Homo sapiens: one gene and its partners. The gene in region 3 interacts genetically with the main gene of each other region. Each region holds a gene or a part of one and is shown on either strand. Other genes may lie near its edges.

Region 1 (3,500 bases), on a different chromosome or scaffold from region 3:
TAAAAAAGAAAACCATAAAAAAGAATATGAAAAGATGATTTGAGATGGTGTCACTTTAACAGTCTTAAAAGCAATCGTGTGTATAGCATAGAATTGCTTGGATTGGATAAACAGTGGCATTATATATTTTAAAAAATAAAAGTTTTGAAAGATTGAAGAATTTGGGCATTACAGTTCTCTTAAATCTGACAAAGCTGCATAAAACTATTAAAATAATCATTATTATACTATTTTATATTCTATTTCTTTGAGGGTTTAGTTTTCCAAAAACTACATATTAAGCAAATGAATCACTCAGTGGCTATGTCATATAATAACGAGTTAGCCTAGTTATAAGAAGTTTAACATTTTATTTAAGAACATTGTTACAGCATGTTTACTGTATAGTCTAGTAATAGAGGAAAAGACATTTGGGTGGGTGGTAGTGGTAGTATTTTTATAGAGGAGTTACCAAATTTCAGCTCTATTATCCAAGTTTACCCAGCTAATGGTGTTCGGAACCGGGAATTTGAGCCAATTCTGACTCTGTTGTCTGCTCTGCTCCTTCTTTTGTGCTGTGTCTTTGAAAGTCACCTAAAATTGTGAGGGAATGTAATTTCACCCCAAATTTAGAGTTTATGCACTTGTTATATTGAAAATGATTAACATGTAGAAGGGCTTTTAATGGAATAAGTGGTGTAGTAACTTCAGTGTTGCCTACCTAGAAATCAAAATCTTTCTAGTTGTCCACTTTGTTTTTTGAAAAAGTAATATGAAAATTATGTTAATGCTTTAATTCAGGTTTTTGTAAAATATTTTTTATCTTTACACATTTAACATACGTTTCTAAAATTATAGTCTGTTATATAGCACTTTGGGTCTAGAATTTTTCAGTAGTTTCTGTTTTACTATTATGATCTACCTGCATATTAACCTATTAGGTTATAGTTTTACTATACTTCTAGGTATTTGATCTTTTGAGAGAGATACAAGGTTTCTGTTTAAAAAGGTAAAGAAACAAAATAACTAGTAGAAGAAGGAAGGAAAATTTGGTGTAGTGGAAACTAGGAATTACATTGTTTTCTTTCAGCCAAATTTTATGACAAAAGTTGTGGACAGGTTTTGAAAGATATTTGTGTTACTAATGACTGTGCTATAACTTTTTTTTCTTTCCCAGAGAACAAATTAAAAGAGTTAAGGACTCTGAAGATGTACCTATGGTCCTAGTAGGAAATAAATGTGATTTGCCTTCTAGAACAGTAGACACAAAACAGGCTCAGGACTTAGCAAGAAGTTATGGAATTCCTTTTATTGAAACATCAGCAAAGACAAGACAGGTAAGTAACACTGAAATAAATACAGATCTGTTTTCTGCAAAATCATAACTGTTATGTCATTTAATATATCAGTTTTTCTCTCAATTATGCTATACTAGGAAATAAAACAATATTTAGTAAATGTTTTTGTCTCTTGAGAGGGCATTGCTTCTTAATCCAGTGTCCATGGTACTGCTTTTGGCTTTGGTTTCTTTCTACATTGAAAATTTCTCTTCAATTCTGAGCACATGTTAACATTTAGAATTCAAGAGGTGGGGATTTTTTTTTCCCATGGTTACATATATATATATATATATATATATATATATATATATATATATATATATAAAGAACAGGGCAACAAATTTTTGCGTTTTCTATTTCGGTAGTACTTTTAAACCATTATGTCATGTTTCTAGGTTAAACGTTGTTGTATTTGAAGAATTTTACTTTGGCAGAATTTTTTTGAGGATGTGTTTATTTCTGGAGAAAGGTCTCATTAAAGAAAGACAATACCCAGAAAGCCAACAGAAATTCTGTTACTCATTTAATGCATTTTTCTGACAAAAATTATTGCCAGAGAGAACCTGAATTTTGTTTCAAAAATCATCTTTGTTTTAAAAATGACTTTTTCTTCAGGTAAAATAAAATAATTTCAGTTGCTATTATTTAACCTGTTTGTATGAAGAGTTTAACATATAGGAAATGAATACATAAAGATAGGAAGGAATTAATTGTTATATGTAGTCATATGTCTCTTAATGACAGGGATACTTTCTAAGAAATACATTGTTAGGTGATTTTGTCATTGTGCAAACATCATAGAATATACTTACACAAACCTTGGTAGTATAACCTACTATACACCTGGGATATGTAGTATAGTCTCTTGCCCCAGGGATACAAACCTGTACAGTATGTAACTGTACTAATGACTATAAGGCAATTGTTAACACAATGGTAAGTTTTGTGTGTCTAAACCTACACTTGGGCTACCCTAAGTTTATATATTTTTTTAAATTTCTGTTCAATAATAAATTAACCTTACTTTACTGTAACTTTTTAAACTTTTTAATTTTTCCTAACATTTTGACTTTTGTAATACAGCTTAAAACACACATTATACAGCTATACAAATTTTTCTTTCCTTATATCTTTATTCTGTAAGCTTTTTTCCATATTTAAAATTTTTTGTTTGTTTTTACTTATTAAACTTTTTTGTTAAAAACTAAGACATGCATGCACATTAACCTAGGCCTACACAGGGTCAGGACCATCAATATCATTGTCTTCCACTTCCACATCTTGTCCCACTGGAAGATCTTCAGGGGCAGTAACACACGTGGAGCTGTCATCTCCTATAATAACATTGCCTTCTTTTGGAATACCTCCTGAAGGACCTATCCAAGGCTGTTTATAGTTAACTTTTTTTTTTTTTTTTTTTTTTTTTTAGTAAATAGGAGGAGTACACTATAAAATAACAATATAGGTGCTATACCATTATACAACTGACAGTGCAGTAGGTTTGTTTACACCAGCATCACCACAAACACGTGAGCAATGTGTCGTACTACAGTGTTAGGATGGCTATAACATCACTAAGCAATAGGAACTTTTAAACTCCATTATAATCTTATGGGACCACTATCACATATGCAATCTCCTGTGGACCAAAATGTCATTATGTGGTACATGACTGTACTAAGAAATTGATCCATCTATATTCCATCAATTTGTTTAGGGCTTTTTCTGGTTACATTTACCTGTGAGCCCAGAAAACCAGTTTTGTAGAAATTAACTTCTGTAATGCTAGGAGTTAAAAAAAATTGCTGAACAACTTTTACATTGTTAAACATTTAAAAACAAGCGTTCTAGAAGTTTATCAAATTTCATAAAGGTGCAAAAATGTAAATGTAAATCATTATCCAGCTAATATATATGTTGTATTTCCCTAGTAGGAGAGCATATGTACCTCTTCCTAGTTATACAAATTTGATATATAGTAAAGAAACAGTAAATTCTACTTCAAGTCATTTTGGGAGGATTAAAAACTGAATTTCTCTAGTTTGACCATTGTACAGATTTATCTGGCAATTTTACTAAAACCTGATTTATAGGTTAAACTTGGTGTATATCATATATCACTTTACTTTAGAGGAATTAAGATTTCACATAAATCCATTTCCAGGTTCCAAAGACCAGGAA
Region 2 (4,042 bases), on a different chromosome or scaffold from region 3:
ATACAAAAAATTAGCCAGGTGTGGTGGCGGGCGCCTGTAGTCCCAGCTACTTGGGAGGTTGAGGCAGGAGAATGGCGTGAACCCAGGAGGCGGAGCTTGCCGTGAGCCGAAATCGCGCCACTGTACTCCAGCCTGGGCGACAGAGCGAGATTCTGTCTCAAAAAAAAAAAAAAAAAAAAAATCATTCTTTCACTTTTCATTTAGTGTATTTACTTATAACAACTTTAAGTAACCCTTGATCAGGTAGCAAATGTGCTGTCATTTTCCATATGTGTTTTTCCTGTCTCCTCCCAAGAGGTAATCTCTTCAAATGAAGGGGGATTCCATGGCATGCTCCCTAGCACTTGACATGGGTGTCTTGTTCATGGTGGGCACTCAAATTTTTTGAATTCATATTTTCCAGAATATCACATCTCATGGTTATGTTTTTCTGAAAACAACTCTTTTGCAATGATTCCAAAAACTCTACCCACTGATAGGGAAGCAAAGGAAAGCCCAAGTTGTTTAAAAGTTTTGTATTATGTCATACAAACTGTCTTCACATACAAGTGCATTAAAAAAATTATCCCCCCCTCCTCCTCCCCAAACATCACAGTAGACCAATTCTTGCTAATATATGACAAAGTTAAAACATATGTCCCCTCTGAATTCTAAACAGCTAATTCTAGACACTAACATCTGGATCTTATAATTTACCGGTCTGGTATGGACATGAACAGTTCCAGTGCCTTTCAACTTATCCCTGAATTTTTCTCTTCTCAAAGTTCTAGGCAGTAATTTTAATGCCCTCAAATTAGATAAAGCTGATTACTTAGAGCTTATAAATTAGCTACACTTTATGACACTAAGAATAGAGCTATGACTTATGCATATCATACCTGTCAAGCTACCTAGCACCACGAATAGAACTAATATTAATGGATGGACTAATACAAGGATCTAATATATGACAGTGATAGTCTTAAAAACACCGATTTGTTATTTTCCTTATATATAATCCAAATTCCTTTCTATCCTTCTGGCAATGTTTCTACTGCCTGACTACCTTAAATAACTATATAGTGTCAATTTCTTGCTTGGGCCAGGTGGTGGCTCATGCCTGTAATCCCAGCATATTGGGAGGATTGCTTGAGCCTAGGAGTTCGAGATCAGCCTGGGCAACATAGTGAAACCTCATCTCTATTTAAAAAAAAAAAAAAAAAAAAAAAAAAATATATATATATATATATATATATATCTCTTAATGTTAATAACAATTCCCTAGGTCACTAGTAATAAGAAGCTATGGGCTTTAAACTTAAAAGGTGCTAAACCAGTTTAAATGTAAAACATTCTCATAATAGAATTGCACTGTATTTCTTTTCTACTTTGATGCTTTTCCAAAGTGCTATAGTTCCTGTGAGATTTGTGTCCTGCACAGAATCAAATGCTAGGTCTTTCACTTTTGGATGGCTGAGTACCATAAAACATGATTTATTTGGTAACAAAAATGTTTCCAGGAGTTTAAAAAGGGACCACTACTCAGAGCTAAAAAAGTTCTAACAGTCACTTTTTAAAAAAGCTAGTTTATCATTTGTTTATAAAGAAAAACACAACTCTGTCCTACTTCCTCTAATAAAAATGGAAAATATTAAGATGAGCTGTGTGCTTATAAAGAGGTGCTACACAAGTCATCTTACGTTTCTAGTCAACACAAACATTGCTTCAGTGACACTTAATATTCAATACATGATGCATTACTCTTAGCATTTTTGCATTTACTCTCCGCATATAACAAGGTCAGATATCAAAACAGTCCTGATCTTAGACAACTCACTACCAATATTTAAAGCTGTTTCCTCCTAGGACTACAGTTCCTAAACTATGCACAGGGAGCAAAGTGGTATTCCCTTAGGATAAACTTGGTCAAGGCTCAGATAACCCTGAGATGAACTTAGCAAAGTCCTTGTAAAGAAATCTTCAGATGGGAAACTCCACCTATGTGAATTTTAAAGCTTTAAGACTGACCCATTCAACAGAAATAGCAGATTTTCTCAGAGCACTGAGTCTAGTGATTGTCCACGTCAAGGAGGCACACACACAATTTTACCCACACCCCTGATGTCTCTTCTGTATGGAAAATGCAATCAGTGATGAAGGGCCGAAAAAACATCTTGCCAGCTGTAGCTCTTTTACAGAGCACAAAGTGGGAGGAAGCAATGAATATAAATGTGTTGGTGTGTGCGTCTGTGGGGAAAAAATAAACCTGTACAAGGCAATGGCTGATCCAACTATGAATTTTGATTAAACACGTTTAGTAATACAGTTATGATTCCCAAAATGTCTACCTTTGAAGGTAAAAAAAAAAAGAAAACCCTGAAATGAAGAGTAAAATAAGGTTCCCAGGAGAAACCTTCATCACATTTTATGCTTCTGGCTGTTCTCACTTATCCCGGTGAATTTGGGCCAAATGTGTACTTCTTAGAAAAGCGAAGCTTGTACTGAGAATACTGTTCTGAACCTACCTTTTTAAGTCCCTGCAAACATATAGCCCAACTTTCCCAAATCTCACCACTCCATAGTCTGCAACAGGTGTCAGCCTCACAGGTATCTGCTGAAATTTGGCACTGATCTCATTAGCCCCAATTTCCCTACATGATTTTTGTTCTGTCTCTAGGAAGCATAGTGTGAATAGAAGAGACTGAGGTCTTTCTCTGGGATAGTCCCAGGAAATTGAAATTAAAGGATAATGTGGAGTGCAGAGCCAAAAACTTCCCTTGTGAACTTAGTCAAACACACATGGTATACATATTCTCCTGGGTATAAACAAATTTACATTAATTAATAGCGCAACAGAACCCAAAACATTGGTAGAACAAATTCTAATGTGACAATTTAAAAGCAGACAGTGCTCCACTGGGTTAATAAATCATACTTAACTAAGAGACAATACTTTAAATACCACATCATTAAAAACTCCTAGTAGGCATGTCCCTCTTATCAGTTAAGTGAAAGAGCAAGCACCATACTCAGTACTGCAGGTTACTGGACTGCTTTGATACAGCACTGCAGTTCACAGATAAACACTTCACATCTTCTCTTCAAGTTACTGAATCTTTCTTCTTCCGGAATGGTGATTTTAGCCTCTTCCATACACTGTTTTTGGGCTTAGATTTTTTCTCCATGGCCAGTACTGCCTCCTTTTCTTTCCTACGTATCTCCCGTACAAGGGCATGGAAAACATCATCAATATAGTAGCGGTATGCAGCAGATGTCTCAAAAAAGGGACAGCTGAATTCTCGGGCCAAGGCCAATCCTTCTTCCTTGGTGACCTTTAAGGGCAAAATGTGAGAAAAGATAACAGTGAAAAACAATTAAATTGTCCAAAAACCTGAATGCACCACCACCTTAACACAAAGAAAGCTTCTCAATTCTGGAGGTGTTCAAGCATACAGCACTAATTTTTGTAATTTTAGGCTAGATTACTTCTAAGGTTTCTTATTCTGCCTTCAAATGATATGATTCTATTTCTAGTCTACTTTTTTTTTTGAGACAGAGTTGCGTTCTTGTTGCCCAGATTGGAGTGCAATGGCATGATTGTGGCTCACAACCTCGGCCTCCCGGGTTCAAGTGATTCTCCTGCCTCAGCCTCCTGAGTAGCTGAGATTACAGGCATGCGCCACCACACCTGGCTAATTTTGTATTTTTAGTAGAGACGGGGTTTCTCCATGTTGGTCAGGCTGGTTGTAAACTCCTGACCTCAGGTGATCTGCCCACCTCGGCCTCCCAAAGTACTGGGATTACAGGCGTCGGCCACTGTGCCCGGTCTCTAGTCTATTTTTAAGATACTTTTTGGAACAGGGAATAGTTTTAGATATCAAATACACAATCTTAATTTTCCCCATACTTTTTATTTTAAGAAAGATAAATAGGCTGGGCTTGGTGGCTCACACCTGTAATTCCAGAACTTTGGGAGGCTAAGGTAGGAGGATTGCTTGAGCCCAGGAACTTGAGACCAAGCTGGGCAATATGGTGAGACCCTACTTTTACAAAATTTTTAAAA
Region 3 (4,957 bases):
TGTGTCTTGTACATTTTTTTTTTTTTTTTTAACATGGGGAGGGATTAACAAGAGATGGCATTAAGACCTTGGATAATAAACCTAGTTGCATCTGCTGGTCATGGTAGAGCTGCTGTGGTCCCTTGCAGCCCACAGTGGCCCTGCCTGGAAACCTCAAGCAGGATGTGCATCTTCTGCCTGCCTACTGATCTCCATCACTTGGAGTACCCCAAAGGCCTCTTTTTCACCTCACTTGCCCAGCTGTCCTAGCGGCATAGGATGGTTGTGTGGTAGACCAGAGGCCTGTTGTGTATATTTTTGTTGGGTTATAGCCACCCCTGTGTATCTACATGCACAAGGGCAGAGTTGTAGTTGTGGCAGAAGCTGTAGCCTACAAAGCCTGAAATATTTCCTACCTGACCCTTTATTATTTATTTTCAGGGACAGGGTCTAGGCCTGTCACCCAGGTTGGAGTGCAGTGGCACAATTATAGCTCACTGCAGCTTCTTGGGCTCAAGTGATCCTCCTGCCCCACCCTCCTAAGTAGCTGGGACTACAGGTGCCTATCAGTCACCATGCCTAGCTAATTTTTTTTATTTGTAGAGATGGAGTCTCACTATGTTGAACTCCCAAGCTCAAGCGGTCCTCCCGCCTCAGCCTTCCAAAGCACTGGGATTACAGGCAAAGTTGACCAGCCTCTATTCTAGAGTTTAACATGTTCCACCCAGTTTGGCAGTCAGCTTATACTGATCATGGGAGTGATCTTGTTTTACCAAAGAGGAAGCTGTGGTGCAGACGGGCGAAGGGACTTGCTGCAAGTTACCCTGGGAGGGCTTGGCAGGGTGGCTCTGTCCAAAACTAGGTTCCCTGCTATATTCCCTTTTTTCTACTCATAAGAGTCTGGCCTATTTTGCCTCCTCAGATTTGAGGCTAAAGTGTGCTAAAGCAGCGCCCTTGCTGAGCAGGGCCAAATTGTGGAGACCTATAGGAATGAGTGTGAGGTAGACAGGTCTTAATCCTGGGGTTTGGGGGTAAAGAGGCCCATGGTAGAAGATGGGGCCCTCTTGAGGGTGGTCTGGAAATGGAGCAGAGCTGTAGGAGTAAGCAGTCCCAAGGCAGTGGTGTAGGAGGCAGGGCAAGGTAGAGGAAGAACCCGCAAAGACTTGCTCTCACTGGACGTTCAAGGGATGGCCGCCATGGGTCTTTATGAAGGGGGTGGTGCAGTGTAGCCCCGGACAGGCTTTTTTTTTTTTTTTTTTTTTTAAACAGAGTTGCACTGTCACCAGGCTGGAGTACACTGGTGCCGTCTCGGCTAACTGCAACCTCTGCCTGCCGGGTTCAAGCAATTCTCCTACCTCAGCCTCCCAAGTACCTGGGACTACAGGTGCCCGCCACCACGCCCAGCTAATTTTTCTATTTTTAGTAGAGACGGGTTTTCACCATGTTGGCTGGGATGCTCTCGATCTCTTGACCTCGTGATCCGCCCGCCTCGGCCTCCCAAAGTGCTGGGATTACAGGCATGAGCTCCCGCACCCAGCTGGACAAGCCTCTTGCTGTCTTAATTCTTTAAAGGACCTGCTGAAGATGGAGATGTGGGAGTCCAGTTTGGTGTCCTGGTGTGCGTCTGAGAGCAGCTGCTGAATTGGGATGTCTGGAAACACTTCTTGTAGGTTGGAGGCTGCTCCATCTCTGGCTCCTGCATGGGGCTGGGCACCCACTTGTGCTATGATAGTAGAAAGAATGAGATCTGGGAGGCATCACAGAAGTGAGTTAAGGGATGAATCAAGGTCAGGAGAGTGGTTTCTTACAAGTTCGGCAGAGAAGGGTCAGCTAGAGTGTGCTGGGGAAGTTCTTCCCTGCCTTTGACTCAGTAGGTCAGGATGGGACCACCGGTCTGGACTTTGCTGAGCTGTGATGACTCCTAAGGAGCCGTGCTTGGTTGGTCTGCCCCGTGCTCAGATCCAGAGGGACCCTCCCTCTCGGTCTAGCAGGAACACAGCTGCCCTCCCTTGACCATGAACTCACAGTAGAGTGGAGAGGGGTGGCCTCCTTTACAGTTCCAGGTAGGGGGTGATTCCTGGACAGGGGTTCCTGAGAGGAGTGGGTTGCCATCCCAAGAATGCACACAGCAGAGGAGCAGAAGGCCTCTAGCATGGAGGAACTGGAGGAGAACCCATTTGTGACAGCAACTTGCTCGCAATTGGCCCTCATGAGTACCAGCTACGGCGGTCTGCATTTGTGCAGCTCCACATCAAAAGCTGGGGCTGGAACCTTGGTCTCCAGGGGGTGAGGAAAAAGGTCAGTGTTTTAATAGAACGCGGTATTTCAACTCTTAGCATTTTCCAATTTGTGAAGTTAATAACCCTTCCTCTCCCTTCTAGTGGGTCAGAAAAAAATAATTAGCATGAACTGGGATAGCAAGGGAGGAGCTTGTAATATCTGACCAAGGTTCTCCATGCCAAAAGGTTTTTATACAGCCTTAAGAAAAATTTAAGCCTCCATTGAAGAACCTAATAGGCCTTTGGGAGGCCAAGGCAGGCGGATCACCTGAGGTCAAGAGTTTGAGACCATCCTGACCAATGTGGTGAAACCCCGTCTCTACTAAAAATAAAAATTAGCCAGGCGTGGTAGCAGGCGCCTGTAGTCCCAGCTACTGGGGAGGCTGAGACAGAAGAATTGCTTGAACCCCGGAGGCAGAGGTTGCAGTGAGTCTGAGATCACGCCACTGCACTCCAGCCTGGGCAACAGAGTGAGACTGTCTCAAAAAAAAAAAAAAAGCACCTAATAGGCCTTATGGGAGCTTGTTCTCTACCAGTCACTGTGCTCAAGGTTTAAGTAAAGTGTCTCCTTTAGTACCGCAGCACAAACCACCTGGAGGATAGGTGGGTCCTGTGTCCCTCCTGAGGAGGAACGGTGTCAGGATTCAAGCTCCTGTCTGACTGCTCTGGGCGCTAGTCCCAACCCAACAAGACTGAGGTTGAGTGTCCCATTTCTGGTGTACAGCCGCTTTGGGCATCTCTGCGCTTAGGAGTGTGTGCCTTATTCTTAAAAAGCAAGATAACAGAGGCCCGGCGCGGTGGCTCACACCTGTAATCCCAGCACTTTCGGAGGCCGAGGCGGGCGGATCATGAGGTCAAGAGATCGAGACCATCCTGGCTAACATGGTGAAACCCCATGTCTACTAAAAATACGAAAAAATTAGCCGGGCGTGGTGGCGGGCGCCTGTAGTCCCAGTTACTGTAGAGGCTGAGGCAGGAGAATAGCATGAACCCGGGAGGCGGAGCTTGCAGTGAGCTGAGATCACGCCACTGCACTCCAGCCTGGGCGACAGAGTGAGACTCCGTCTTTAAAAAAAAAAAAAAAAAAAAAAGGCCGGGCGCGGTGGCTCATGCCTGTAATCCCAGCACTTTGGGAGGCCGAGGCGGGCGGATCAGGAGGTCAGGAGTTTGAGACCAGCCTGGCCAGCATGGTGAAACCCCATCTCTACTAAAAATACAAAACATTAGCCAGGTGTGGTGGCGTGTGCCTGTAGTCCCAGCTACTCGGGAGGCTGAGACAGGAGAATTGCTTGAACCTGGGAGGCGGAGCTAGCAGTGAGCCCAGATGGCACCACTGCACTCCAACCTAGGCAACAGAGAAAGACTCCGTCTCAAAAAAAAAATAAAGCAGGATAACAGGAAAAGCTATTCTGCGTTCCCCAGTCCTGGGTACTGTAGTTCAAATGGGAGAGCAGGTCTCCACCCAGAGCCCCAGGGCACAACCAGCTACAGGGCCCAGAGGGATGGCAGCAGCTGCTGGGTATTTGAGCTGGTCTGAAAGGGTGGAGGTTTCCAGTGATGTCACTCTCTGGCAGGATTGTGGGGGGTGGCTTACGCCAGGTGAGTCTGTCTATTGGTCCTGGTTATGGGCACTTATTACCAGGCAGTGGCGTAGGGGGTAGGGCCTGGAGTGAGGTGGGGATTTTAAAGTGAGCAGATGCCAGAGGTAGTGAGCCAACAGCAGGGCTGTGCTCTTGGCCCCCAGCAGAGCATGGTTGTATAGTATCAGCTGAGGATTGGTTCCAGGATGAACCCCAATACCCAAGTCCACAGATGCTCACCCTTACTATAAAATGGTGTAATATCGGGGCCAGGGGCCGGGTGCGGTGGCTCAACCCTGTAATCCCAGCACTTTGGGAGGCCAAGGCAGGTGGATTACGAGGTCAGGAGATTGAGACCATCCTCGCTAACACGGTGAAACCCCGTCTCTACTAAAAATACAAAAAAATTAGCCAGGCGTGGTGGCGGGCCCCTGTAGTCCCAGCTACTCTGGAGGCTGAGGCAGGAGAATGGAGTGAACCCGGAAGGCAGAGCTTGCAGTGAACCGAGATTGCGCCACTGCACTCCAGCCTGGGCGACAGAGCGAGAGACTCCATCTCAGAAAAAAAAAATATCGGGGCCAGCACAGTGGCACACACCTGTAATCCCAGCACTTTGGGAGGCCAAGATGGGTGGTTCACTTCACTCCAGGAGTTCAGCCAGAGCAACATGGCAAAACCGGGTCTCTTCAGAAATTATCTGGGCGTGGTGGCTTGCACCTGTAGTCCCAACTATTCAGGAGGTCAAAGCTGCAGTGAGCTGTTACCACTGCACTCCAGCCTGGGTGACAGAATGATGCCCTGTCTCCAAAAAAAAAAAAAAGTATAATATTTGCATATATCCTATGTAGATGTTTTACTTTTGAGACAGAGTCTCACTCTGTCACCCAGTCTGGAGTGCAGTGGCATGATCTTGGCTAACTGCAACCTCTGCCTCCCAGGTTCAAGTGATTCTCCTGCCCTGCCTCAGCCTCCCAGGTAGCTGGGGTTACAGCGGGTGTGCCACCACACCTGGCTAATTTTCTTGTAATTTCAGTAGAGATGGGGTTTCACCATGTTGGCCAGGCTGGTCTCAAACTCCTGACCTCAGGTGATTCTCCCGCCTCAGCCTCCCAAAGTGGT
Region 4 (3,165 bases), on a different chromosome or scaffold from region 3:
AGATTCTGGCATTTATTAAGTCTTGCCAACATGAATGTGGTGGAATAAGTGCTAGTATCGGACATGATCCTCATCTTTTATACACTCTTAGTGCTGTCCAGGTAAATACTAATCAAAATTGCAACGATCTTGATAGTATGTTCTCTTACTTCAGAGTTGGAAATTGAAACTGTATCAGGATTTGGTCAAAAAGTTTTGTTACAAGTGAAGCTGTCCTACAAGGTCAATGATGTAATGGCATGTATTAGCTGAATCTAAAGTTGATGTGAGTTCTAAAATTACACTGAGACCTTGGAGGGTAAAATTTTTATCTTCAGTATGTGTAAATACTGTAAAATAGCTAAATGGAGCTATTTGATTTTGATATTAGTGAACATCTACCTGGTGGTTTAAAGTCTTTCTGGTACTACTGGGTGCTGAGATGGGAAGATCAGGACTTTGTGTGGATGTGAGTTAGTATACTTGAGTATCTTGGAATGCCAAGTTAAAATTTATATGTAGAAAATTATACTTTAAAGATTTGAGTTTTCTTGATACTATCTAATTTTATTCAATAACAGGAGAGTCTGCATATTTGAGAAAAGGTTATATACACAGAGACAAAAGGATGTGCTTGACAACTTAAAAAGAGTTGAGCATAAGATCATTAGAATAAACCTGAAAGGGACATTTACCTAATACTTGTCTTTATTGCAGATTCTTACGCTGTATGACAGTATTAATGTTATTGACGTAAATAAAGTTGTGGAATATGTTAAAGGTCTACAGAAAGAAGATGGTTCTTTTGCTGGAGATATTTGGGGTAATGTCAGATTTAGTCCATTCTACCCAAAATACCAATATTAAAATGTACTGGTTTTGCTAGTAACCAGTTTATAAGTTTTTCATCTTTTCAGGTCCCACTAAGCAGCTGGTCTAACTGGAGTTAATGGTCTGCTGGAACTTCCAGCATGCACTGTGGTAGTTATATCAGCATATACAGGAGCACTGGAACAGAGGGGGCCAGTCTAAAAGATAAGGTAGGTGGAATTTTTTTCCCCAATATTTGGTGGCTTTGTAAAGTTTTTTAAAAACTACTTGCTGGAAAGGGAAAAATATTTAAAAAAAAAAACTTTACAAACTTGCTGAATATTTGAGTGGAGGGAGGGAATAGAATTTTATTTGATAAACGTAGATAATCTCTGCTTTAGGGATGAACACAGTGCAGGCCAGAGAGACCAGCTGCTTCATGGGATGTGAAAAATCTACTTTTATAAAGTAGGGTAAGTTTATTTCATTATTAGAAATGGACTAATACTTTGGGTTCTATTAGTTTTCTTCTCTTTGGTTTTCTTCTCTTTCTGGGCTTTCTTTAAGCAGCTTAAGATAATTTGCTGTTACTTTTTTGTGGCAGGGTCTTGGCTCTGTCCAGGTTGGAGTGCAGTATTTTGGGAGACAGTTGCTGGGGCTGGAGAGCTCTGTTGCCCAGGCTGGAGTGCAGTGGTGCAATCTTGGCTCACTGCAACCTCCACCTCCCAAGCTCAAGCAATTCTCCTGCCTCAGCTTACAGAGTAGCTGAGATGTGCACCACAACACCTGGCTGGTTTTTGTGTTTTTAGTAGAGATGGGGTCCCCTGGCCTCATGTGATCCTCCTGCCTCGGCCACCAAAAGTGCTGGGATTTCAGGCCTGAGCCACAATGCCCAGCCCCACCTAATTTTTTTTAAAAAGTTTTTTGTAGAGATGGGGTCCCATTATGTTGCCTCGGCTAGTCTCAAACTCCTAGGCTCAAGTGATTCTCCCACCTCAGCCTCCCAAAATGTTGGAATTATAGGCAAGAGCTACTGTGCCTGGTCAATTTGCTGTTATTTTTGACAAAGGAATTTTCTTGGGAAGTAAAGGCACTTCAGATTTAGCTTTCCTCCTGACTACCCTAAAGTGAAAGTTAAGCTTGAACTCAATTTAAAGTGGTAGTTGTGCAGTGTTTGTTTTTAGATGACTCATGTATGATTTGGTAACACCTGCCTTGATTTGATCTATTTTTATTGTAGGAGAAATTGACACAAGATTCTCTTTTTGTGCGGTGGCAACTTTGGCTTTGTTGGTAAGCTTTGAATATTTGATTGAAATGATTAAAGTTCATGAATACTCTGGAATTTTTTTTTTTTTTGAGTCTGATCTGCTGAATACTCTGGAATTTAACAGGCATCTTTTTTTTTGTTTGTAGGGGAAGCTTGATGCTATTAATGTGGAAAAGGCAATCGAATTTGTTTTATCCTGTATGAACTTTGACGGTGGATTTGGTTGCAGACCAGGTTCTGAATCCCATGCTGGGCAGGTAATTTATGAATACAGATGAAAATGTATTGTCATTTTGGAAGCCAGTGTAGTAAAATAAGAAAATTGGTTATTTCAGTGTTTGTCAAATACACATAAAGTTAATTCGACTGTAATAGGGCATCTTACATAAGAATTGCTTAATTGCTATCATTACTTTGCTTTATATACTATATACCTTTCTCTGTCGGTGGATTCGTCTGACCTAAGCAAACATAAGTGGGTTTATAAGCACCAAAACACTTTTGTTTTCCATTAATTTTTCACTAACCATACAGATAAAAAAAAAAACAACACATTTTTCTTTCTTTCCTAAGATAAATTATGAACCTCTTTTCTTGTGCCAGAGAACACTGAATATGTGAATGGATGGCTGTGAAATACTAGCCATGAAGAAATTTTGACAATAATATTTCAGTGCAGAATTGCATACTAGTAATAGTATGCTTGGATTTTTTCAGATATGTGGTATTAATACATGTTTGGAATTTTAAGTGTCAGATCAAGAAGAAAAACTTAAGATATAAAGTGGTGTTTTAATAATTTGAGTTTTATCACTTTTAATGTCAAGAAATTATTATACACATAAACTTTATGTCTGTAATTTTAGATCTATTGTTGCACAGGATTTCTGGCAATTACAAGTCAGTTGCATCAAGTAAATTCTGATTTACTTGGCTGGTGGCTTTGTGAACGACAATTACCCTCAGGCGGGCTCAATGGAAGGCCGGAGAAGGTATTGTTTGATAAGCCATATTCTGCTAGCTTTAGAACCTTGAGTGAATGCTGCTGCTTTGTCTTGCCTGTTTCTATATTGTAAATTGGCCATGAGCTTATTTATTACCTTTCC

The links.
Region 1: changes in RPS19 (region 3) and KRAS impair growth when combined (synthetic growth defect), as found in Homo sapiens cells (2 studies listed by BioGRID, with this or other methods).
Region 2: changes in RPS19 (region 3) and RIT1 together harm fitness more than expected from each alone (negative genetic interaction), as found in Homo sapiens cells (one large-scale study listed by BioGRID).
Region 4: changes in RPS19 (region 3) and RABGGTB are lethal when combined (synthetic lethality), as found in Homo sapiens cells (one large-scale study listed by BioGRID).

What each region holds. Positions count from the first base shown.
Region 1 is NC_000012.12:25,223,430-25,226,929, reverse strand, and holds part of KRAS (GTPase KRas), read left to right. Parts: intron 1-1,156; coding exon 1,157-1,316; intron 1,317-3,500. UniProt on the Homo sapiens protein: Ras proteins bind GDP/GTP and possess intrinsic GTPase activity. Plays an important role in the regulation of cell proliferation.
Region 2 is NC_000001.11:155,897,308-155,901,349, forward strand, and holds the end of RIT1 (GTP-binding protein Rit1), read right to left. Parts: intron 3,312-4,042; coding exon 3,081-3,311; 3' UTR 501-3,080; downstream 1-500.
Region 3 is NC_000019.10:41,862,623-41,867,579, forward strand, and holds part of RPS19 (small ribosomal subunit protein eS19), read left to right. Parts: intron 1-4,957. UniProt on the Homo sapiens protein: Component of the small ribosomal subunit. The ribosome is a large ribonucleoprotein complex responsible for the synthesis of proteins in the cell. Required for pre-rRNA processing and maturation of 40S ribosomal subunits.
Region 4 is NC_000001.11:75,789,256-75,792,420, forward strand, and holds part of RABGGTB (geranylgeranyl transferase type-2 subunit beta), read left to right. Parts: coding exon 1-101; intron 102-221; exon of another isoform or gene 222-292; intron 293-696; coding exon 697-802; intron 803-896; exon of another isoform or gene 897-1,019; intron 1,020-1,190; exon of another isoform or gene 1,191-1,262; intron 1,263-2,029; coding exon 2,030-2,082; intron 2,083-2,205; coding exon 2,206-2,316; intron 2,317-2,925; coding exon 2,926-3,051; intron 3,052-3,165. UniProt on the Homo sapiens protein: Catalyzes the transfer of a geranylgeranyl moiety from geranylgeranyl diphosphate to both cysteines of Rab proteins with the C-terminal sequence -XXCC, -XCXC and -CCXX, such as RAB1A, RAB3A, RAB5A and RAB7A.